Homo sapiens: one gene and its partner. The protein of the gene in region 1 purifies or fractionates together with the protein of each later gene. This does not show direct contact. Each region holds a gene or a part of one and is shown on either strand. Other genes may lie near its edges.

What was found.
Region 2: the proteins of FBXL13 (region 1) and AKR1C4 purify together in Homo sapiens (affinity purification with mass spectrometry, with the first as the bait; one large-scale study listed by BioGRID). This does not show direct contact.

What each region holds. Positions count from the first base shown.
Region 1 is NC_000007.14:103,067,681-103,072,933, reverse strand, and holds part of FBXL13 (F-box and leucine-rich repeat protein 13), read left to right. Parts: intron 1-5,253. UniProt on the Homo sapiens protein: Substrate-recognition component of the SCF (SKP1-CUL1-F-box protein)-type E3 ubiquitin ligase complex.
Region 2 is NC_000010.11:5,215,797-5,220,356, reverse strand, and holds the end of AKR1C4 (aldo-keto reductase family 1 member C4), read right to left. Parts: intron 3,647-4,560; coding exon 3,564-3,646; intron 1,640-3,563; coding exon 1,597-1,639; 3' UTR 1,408-1,596; downstream 1-1,407. UniProt on the Homo sapiens protein: Cytosolic aldo-keto reductase that catalyzes the NADH and NADPH-dependent reduction of ketosteroids to hydroxysteroids. Liver specific enzyme that acts as an NAD(P)(H)-dependent 3-, 17- and 20-ketosteroid reductase on the steroid nucleus and side chain.

The DNA of each region.
Region 1 (5,253 bases):
CTTCGTCTGGGATAGGAATTTGCCAGGCATATATTAATAGAATGGAAAGGCAGTAGGTTAGGGAGCTAAGCTCCTGAGTATCTGAAGTGATGGGCCAAGGACTCTAAGGACTCAGTGGGAAATGAGAAAAGGATATCATACTGATACATGGACAGAAAGTGAAGACTCCTCTAAGAGGTGAGTGAAGAGAAGTAGAGGGAGTAATTAAGTGAGGGAGCTGGAAACACAGGAGGTGGGGGTCAGAAAGTGGAACGTTTATATTTACAATTCAGGGTGCAGCCATTCTGAGTGATGGCTCAGTCTGTGATATGGCGGTGGAGCAGGTGGCAGAAATGGACTTGAGTTGAGAGTCAGGGTACATCAAGGAAGGGATGGCCTCTTCTCATCTAGGCCGCCAGTTACTATAACATCACAAAGCTGCAATGAGGCAGTCCCCAGTTCCCCCTCTGGGTGAAAGCATTCCTTCCTTACCAGCTTACTGCATTGTTCTGCACCCATAGAGGAGGCCCTTATATGCATTCTCCATTGTCTAAGATCATGTTCTCCTGAGGAGTCCTTCACTCACCTCTGCTAGCACACTAGCAGGAAGTGCAAAGGAGCAATCCTCTGGGCCCCACACACCCACCTTAAACTCATTACCCATTTCTTCTAAGAGAATATCAAGATGAATTCCATTCTGCCTCATATCCTGTCTGTACATTTATTTATCTGACTCAATTTCCCAGATGGGTTTTATACTTTTTTTTTTTTTGAGACAGAGTCTAGCTCTGTCGCCCAGTCTAGAGTGCAGTGGTGCCATCTCAGCTCACTGCAACATCCGCCTCCTGGGTTCAAGCGATTCTCCTGCCTCAGCCTCCCAAATAGCTGGGACTACAGGCACCTGCCACCATGCTCAGCTAATTTTTGTATTTTTAGTCGAGACAGGGTTTCACCATGTTGGTCAGGCCGGTCTCGAACTCCTAACCTCAGGTGATCCACCCGCCTCAGCCTCCCAAAGTGCTGAGATTACAGGCATGACCCACCACAGCATGACCCACCATGTCTGGCAGGTTTTATACTTTTCTAAAACCCATCTTCTGCAAGCCTTGGAATACATAAATAACCTTTCATTAAAGTTTTCCCTGTATATTTAACCTCTTCTGAATTTCATCTACCTGTCCTAAATAAAACCTGATTTTCTACCTACAATATCATTTTCCTGCAAATCTCTTGAATAGAGACTGATTTTTTTAAAAATCAGGCCTGGCTTGGTGGTTCATGCCTGTAATCCCAGCACTGTGAGAGCCCAAGGCAGGTGGATTGCTTGCCAGGAGTTCAAGACCAGCCTCGGTAACATAGTGAGACCCTGTGTGTACAAAAATTAAAAAAAAAAAAAAAAAAAAGCTAACTTGTCTTAGTGGCTCACACCTGTAGTCCCTGCTACTCATGAGGCTGAGAGGAGAGGATCACTTGAGCCCAGGAATTTGAGGCTGCAGTGAACTATGATTGCACCACTGAACTCCAGCCTGGGTGATGGAGCAAGACCCTATCTCTAAAAAAATAAAAAATTAAAAAACATTTTAAACAATCCTGCTTGGTCCCCTGGGCTTACTGAATCTGTTGATAGATATTTTTCATCCGTTTTAGAAAATTCTTGGTTCTTTTCAAATAGTACTTCTATTCAGTTCTCTCTTTTCCTTTTGGAACTCCAATCGTACATATGTTAGCTTTTTTTTTCTTTTTCTTTACCTTGTTCTACATGCCTCTTTTGATCTCTTCTGCTTTTTCCCCATTTTCTTCTTTTTGAGCTCAAGTTTGGATCTTTTTCATTGATGGTTTTCAAGTTTACTAATTTTGTTTTATGCTGTGTCCAGTCTACTCTTAAATACATCAAATGAAATCTTAATTTTAGACATGTTTTTCAGTTCTAGAATGACAATTTGATGTTTAAATAAATTCTGATTATTAGAATTATGCATCTTTTCATTCAGTTTGCCTTTTTCTGTTTTCTTTATTTGTTCTCTCCAAATCTGTTAAAATTTGATCCCCAGTGTTGGAGGTGGGGCCCAGTGGGAGGTATTTGAGTCATGTGGGCAGATCCCTCAAGAATGGCTTTGTGCCCTCCCCTGTGATAATTAGTGAGTTCTCCCTCTATTAGTTCACCCAAGAGCTGGTTGTTTAGAAGAGCCTCCCTCTAGCTGTTTCTCTTACTCCTTCTCTTCCCATGTTACATGCTGGCTCCCTTTGCCTTCTGCAGTGAGTAAAAGCTTCCTGAGGCCTTCGCCAGAAGCCGAGCAGATGCTGGCACCATGCTTCTTGTACACCCTGCAGAACCCTGAGCCGCATACAACTCTTTTCTTTATAAATTACCTGGCCTCAGGTATTTCTTTATAGCCGTGCAAAATGGATCAACACACATGTTGATGGTTGTTATTTTAAAATTATTGTTTGTTGCTTATGCCTGTAATTCTAGCACTTTGGGAGGCCGAGGTGGGTGGATCACTTGAGGCCAGGAGTTCGAGACCAGCTGAAACCCTGTCTCTACTAAAAATACAAAAATTTGCCAGGTGTGGTGCACGCCTGTAATTCCAGCTATTTGGGAGGCTGAGGCATGAGAATCGCTTGAACCCAGGAGGCAGAGGTTGCAGTGAGCTGAGATCACACCATTACACTCCAGCCTGGGTGATGGAGTGAGACTGTGTCTCTAAAAAAATAAATAAATAAAATAAATACATAAAATTAAATCATTGTTTGTTAACTTGAATATCCAGATCATTTGTGGGTCTGCTTCTATTGCTTATTTTCTTCTGTTGATAATTCAAGACATTTTCCTGCCTTCATACATACCTAGTAATTTCTTTTTTTTTTTTTTTTTTGAGACAGAGTCTTGCACTGTCGCCCAGGCTGGAGTGCAGTGGCGGGATCTCGGCTCACTGCAAGCTCCGCCTCCTGGCTTCACGCCATTCTCCTGCCTCAGCCTCCCGAGTAGCTGGGACTACAGGCGCCTGCCACCATGCCCGGCTAATTTTTTTGTATTTTTAGTAGAGACGGGGTTTCACCGTGTTAGCCAGGATGGTCTCGATCTCCTGACCTCATGATCCACCTGCCTCGGCCTCCCAAAGTGCTGGGATTACAGGCGTGGGCCACCGCGCCCAGCCCATACCTAGTAATTTCTTATTTTTATTGGACATTGTGTGAGAAAAGAACAATAGAAGTTCCAGATGATATACTCTTTCGCCAGCAAAGGTTCGTCCTTTCCTCTGTATAGGGTACAGAGCTCATGACCTCAGTCCAGGAAGGGACTGATCTGTGTTGAGCTTGGACTGTGGATTTATTTGGGTTCGGTTTACATCTGGTTCATCCCTATTCCTCAGGCATAGCTCTTCTGGGCTTTTGATTGAGAAGCTAGCCAGTCTCTGTCTCCTCAGACTGAAAGATTGTGAGAGATTTGGTTCTGCTCTTCGGAGGTATTTAAGCTTAGCTCTTTAGTTTCCCTTCTAGGCCCTCAACTTTTATATATGTATATATATTCCCCAATTTAAAACTTTTAAAAGTAAACTTTAATATCAAAAATGCAAACTTGGGGAGGGCATAAAAATCACACACAAGGCTGCCACTTCACACTTCGAGGGTTGCACAACGGCCGGGCAAAGGCGCTCCTCACTTTCCAGATGGGGCGGCAACCAGGTAGAGGCGCTCCTCACTTCCCAGAAGGTGCAGCGGCTGGGCAGAGGCGCTCCTCTCTTCCCAGACTGTGGGGCAGCCAGGGAGAGGTGCGCCTTACTTCCCAGACAGTGGGGCGGCAGGGCAGAGGGCCTCCTCACTTCCCAGAGGGGGCGACAGCCAGGCAGAGGTGCTCCTCACTTCCCAGGTGGTGGGGCGGCCGGGCAGAGGTGCTCCTCACTTCCCAGACGGTGGGGCGGCCGGGCAGAGGCGCTCCTCACTTCCCAGATGGTGGGGCGGCTGGGCAGAGGTGCTCCTTACTTCCCAGATGGCGTGGTGGCCGTGGGCCCTCAACTTTAAAATCTGGCAAGTACATTGAAGGTTATGCTGGCTGTATGTTTGAGGCAGGCTTCCTCTTCCTTCCCTGAGATTATGAAAGACTCACTCTGCCTTGTAGGAGTTGATGTTCTAGCTCCTCAGCCTCCTGTGTGAACACTCCCAGAACTCACTGCCTTATGGGAGACAGTGGCCACACTTGGGGCACCTCAAGTTTCTAACCTGTCATGTTACCCCCGTGCCACCACCATAAGCCTATTGGTTTCTCTTCCCATTTGTAGACTTTCTCTGCCTGGGCCCAGCCCTGTCCTCTTTCCTACCCAGAGCTGGCACACGTTCCCAGGGAAAAAAAGCAGCTGTGCATTGTCAGCTCACTTCAGAAAAATTTCCTTCCCCTGGAATTCCATGGCTCGCCAATATCTTTTTTAAATGTGATTTTTGTAATGTGTCTGTTTTTTTCTAGTTGTTGTAGCAGGGTCATTGGACCATGGTGACTTTCCACATCCTACTCAGATATGAAATCCTAGGGAGACTGTCTTGTTTCACTCCTCAGTTTACCTCAGATCTAGAGATAGGTTAGGTGTCTTCCTTGGCTCCCCATTTCCACTTCCAAACTATGTATCTTCCCTCCTTTTTCTAAAGTCTCAGCTTCTTTGTAGTTCATAACATCAGATTTAGCACTCACTGTCTTCATTATGTACCAATCTCTATGTTTTGTTGGTAGCATTAGCATCTGGCTCACCATCTTCCTTTTTCTCTACTCCTGTCATTGTTCTTGTGCCCGCAGTATTCACAGGGATGTTCCGTTCACATCCTTGACCTTTCTTCCAGTTATCTTTGCTTTCACCGTTCCTCAGTCATGTCCTTCTATGGTCATACTCTTAACCATTTTATCCTAAATTGCTGTACCATCTCTGAAATCTCCATTTCTTCATCCACTTATCTCTTAATTTCTTAGCTCACTCACATTGGAGCTTCTACACTAGCACTTCTTCAACTGACTCAAACCACCATTTCATTCAATTATCTTTGCACTGTCAAATATTACTCTTATGTCCTTATTTCTCTCTTTACCCATCTTAGATTCCTTGGTTCATCATTATTGTGGATGTCTATTACCTAAATGTCTTTACAACATTTAGTGATTTAAAATAACAGTATTCATTTTATTATTGCCTCTCACAGTTATGGGAGTTGACAGAATATTATTGCTTGAGATCCCTCATGCACTTACATGTCAGAGTGGCTGAGGTTAAAATCATCTTGAAGGCTTCC
Region 2 (4,560 bases), on another chromosome or scaffold:
ATTAGGCACTAATGTAGAGATGCAGACAATATGATGTTTCATTCTGGAGTTTCGGAGAAAAAGCTCACCTGCCGATATTGATTTGTGGTTTCTTGGCCTAGAGGTTGTATTTAAAGCCATGAGAATATTTGACATCATCAAGGAAATGAGTGAAGACAGAAAACCAGTCCAAAGATCACCCAAGGGTCTTCCAAAGTTTATGGCCTCTTCCACTTCTAAGAAACAAATCATTTTAGGAAATATTGTAAACTACAAAACTTGGCAGGATATTTCTCAGCTGAAAGACATGGCTTAAGGAAACCCCTCTAATGGGGTTAAATCAGTGGAGGGTAAAAGCACTGGAAAATGTGCACAGGTCATAAACACCTGTCAGTCTCAAAGTGCTTTGGCCAGTAGCCCATAACATTGTCCCAACTTTTCAAAAAGTTGTCTGGAATGAAATTTTATTTTCTTGACTAGCTGATTAAATTTGTACCCCTACAAACTATATGAACAATTAGGTGTCTTTAGTAACTTTCAGGAATAATTGTTACAAAGTTTGAAAGCATCATGCTATTGACATACACTGTTTACAGAAGAGTTTTGAAATTTTGGATAATTAGATGTATTTGCAATTCTGAAATTAATTTGACAACATGTAATGGCTTTCAGATATTTTATATTAGTAAGTGTGCCTTTTTGAATGTATGAAATATTTCAAAAGACTGAGTAGAACAAATTAAGAGTATATTTTTAGAATCTAAAATTTGTTCTAAATGGAGCTGATATTCAGGAGAATGTGGCCAGTCACTGGTGTCTTTGATGTCCTGCTCCACCACAGCCCAGCAAGGTCACTGCTGATACTGGGCACACAGAGGAGGTCAAGGCCTGGCTCTCAGCCTTAAAACGATGTGGGAAGTTTCCTTTTATGCACAAGACGTAATTAACAAAAGAGCATGTGTTTGTATTTCCCAAGCAGAATGTGCTCAACTCCCTTCTCACCTCTCCCATATCTGACTCCTAATTATTTCTCCTGGATGGGTGCCCTCCCACCTCCCTAACCATTACCCCACAGGGATGCTGCACCCCTAGGTTGCTGGAGCTCCCATTCTTGCGATGCTGGAGGGAGGCCATTAATTGTTGGTCATCCTGTCAATATGGCTCATGTTCAGGTTCTGTGCTGTGTGTTTTCTTCTTTCTGGAAGAGCTAAAGACAGACTAACAAATATGTCACTTGCTTCTCCTCTAGAGGCTGAAAACTCCACCTACTCTCACCTCAAAAATGTCTATAAAATATTGGTTATCATCTGCTCTCTGCCCCAAACTTATAGGCAAATCAGTTTTTGGCCTTAAAGAACTAGAAGGAAAAGAAACACACAAGTAACAGAGAAAGGAGTAGGAAAAGAATCTTTAAGGAAAAACATTCAATTACTTCAAGATAAAAATTTATTATGTTTGCTTTCTGGACCATGGATATATCTAGCTAGCTGAAGTTGCCAAGCAGGAGGGGAGGGATTTAACCAGAGGCTGTGTGTCCAGTCACCAGCATAGAGACATCCTCTGCATCACCATCCACACACAGGGCCTTCTGCTAGATGTCGTGCAACACCCTCTATGCTAATATTCATCTGAAAATGGATAATCAGGATGGTCCATAAGACTGAAAAGAGAAAGGATAGTACATAAATATGGATGAAATGACTCTATTAAAAAGCTGGTAGCAAAGTGAATTTATATGAAGCTGCCATTAGTGTGAATGTTAAGAAGTTTATTTTCGGACTATTTGTAGAATGTCTTTCATGAACATGAGTTTATAATGTGTTTTTTTTTTTTTTCAAAATAAGAAAATTTTCAACTTATATTCCCTTGCCTGGAATTTATCACACAAACTACACAGGGTCAATTGTTCAAACATAGTCCTCCATATCTGTCAACAGAGCAAAGAGATATTCTGACATTTTCTATTTCAAATTCTCAATGAAAGCAGGAACTCATCTTGCATTGTTTTGAATAGAAATAAGCCAGCTATATGTTCATCATTAACAAAAAGTTTTGAGGGTTAAATGTTATTGGTAGCAATCACATATCCTTTTAAAAGAATGTATTCATTACTGACTAGCTGCTTACCATATGGAAAATATTTTCTTTGATTCAGACATGTAAATTGTCATATGTGATATGGGGTTCCATATTCAAAACCCTACAATATGCTAAGGGCAATCTTTAGGTGAAAATCACACAAAATAGAATGAATAAATGATTCATTAATATTGAATAATTGATTGGTGAGAATTACTGATGTTTGCCACTCTTCCTTTCCTTTTCATGATTTTCTATTTTACTATTTTCCTCTAAACTAATAAAGATATCTAAAAATGTTTGAGTTCTTATGATGTGCTGCTGTGCTTATCCTTTTTAATACATTATCTCATGTCTATTACTTGTTAACATCTCCACTGCAGGCAGTGACATAACTTGTTTTGCCCTCATCACATGAGTGCCTTTCTGTGAATCCTAGAACCTTGGAGCATATAGAAAAGAGTAAGATCTTTTGTCAGCTATATATTATCCCCAAAGATGGGACTTTCCAACTCTTCCCTTGATTTTTTTGTTTTTTAATGACTGAGTCTTGCTCTGTTGCCCAGGCTGGAGTGCAGTGGCATAATTTTGGCTCACTGAAACCTCTGCTTCCCGGGTTCAAGGGATTCTCCTGTCTCAGCCTCCTTAGTAGCTGGATTTGCAGGTGTGTGCCACCATGCATGGCTAATTTTTTTATTTTTAGTAGAGACAGGGTTTTGCCATTTTGGCCAGGCTGGTCTGAAACTTCTGACTTCAAGTGATTCACCTGCCTTGGCCTCCCAGAATGATGGGATTACAGGCATGAGCCACTGAGCCTGGCTCTTCCCTTGATTTTTAATCTATCTTCTCTAAAGCTTCTTTATACTCTGCATTGAGATTTCCATATTGCAAAAATTAAAGCCAAGAGTTCTATTGCCTACTAAGGGCAAACTTCCTGGAGGCAAAATGCAGTGTTTGGGTCATGAGCAAATGTCTAAAGAGAAGGAAGAAAGAAATTTGAAACAATTAAAGATACTGAATTGACATGATCTAGTGAGCAATTCCATATGGAAGAGAAGAGAATTTCTGGCATGGACACCAGTGTTGTTGGAAATGTTTTTTAGCTGATAAGAAACTGAGTGGATTTGGAAGAAAAAGCTATAAGTACAGATTTGGAAAAACATTAATCAAGCCATATGGGCAATATCTACTGTCCACTAGGCCACGGCAGAAATGCCAGGCCTACATGAAAGTTGCAGATTTAGCAATAATATTGGCTGCTCTGGAAATTTCCATGGAGTCAGGAGAGCAGAGGCACAGGTTGACCGATGCTGACCCTGGGTCCACTCACCCTGTCAGAGAACAGAGCTCTGGAGTGAATCCAGAAGGAGAGTTCCAGAGAGTTCCTGTCTCACCTCTCACTTGCACTGGCCTCTGTCTCCCTGGTATTGAGGTCACTTTCAACACCCATCTGACATTCCTCCTCTAAAAATAAACTGGGAAACCCATTTTCCAAAGTTACTTACAAATCCATGACAACATATCGATAATTTCTGTTTAGACCATCTAGAACTTTCATATCCTCTGATGTCAACTGGAATTCAAAAACCTACCAAAGAAGTAGAAAATGTTTATTCTTAGATTGCATAATTGTCAACTTGGAATAGCCAAGTATATCACACAGTAGGGTGTAGAGGCAATATGTAAAATACTTGATAAGTTTCCAAAAGTTATGAAAGACCATCTCTAAACTCTCAAGTGATTAAAGAATATCAGATAAAATATAAATCTATTCCTAGATATTACATATTGAAACTGCACAAAACTGAAGAAAAGATCTCAACAGAAACTAAAGATGGAACGAAGTTGACCTTATGTGCACATGATTGGTTCATGTACTTAGATTCAGAAGAATCTAGAGAAATTTTGAAATGTATAATTTAGACAGTTTGATGGTGATACAATTTGGATATTTGTCCCCTCCTAATCTCATGTTAAAAAGTAATTCCCCAATGATGGAAGTGGGTCCTGGTGGGAGGTGTTTGTGCCCTGGGGGCATCCCTCATGAATGGCTGGGTGCCCTCCCCATGGTAATGAGTGTTCACTGCATTAGTTCACATGAAATCTGGTTTAAAAAGGAGCCTGACATTTTCTTTTTTTCCCTCTTCATCTCTTGTTATTTGATATGTTTCCTCCTCTGTCACCTTCTACCACGAGTAAATGCTTCCTGAGCCCTCACCAAAACTAAATGCTGGTGCCATGATTTTTGTACAGTCTGCAAAATGGTAAGTCAAAACAACTTTCGGCATATTTTATCTGGCCTCGGGTACTTTATAGCAACGCACAATGGACTAATATGGAAAATTGTTACCAGGAGTGGGACATTGCTAAAAATGTCTGAAAATGTGGTAGTGGCTTTAGAACTGGATAATTAGCACAGTTTGGAAGTGTCAGGAGGGTTCAGAAGAAAATGGGAAGATAAGGGGTAGTCTGGAACTTGTTAGGCATTGGTTAAGTGATTCT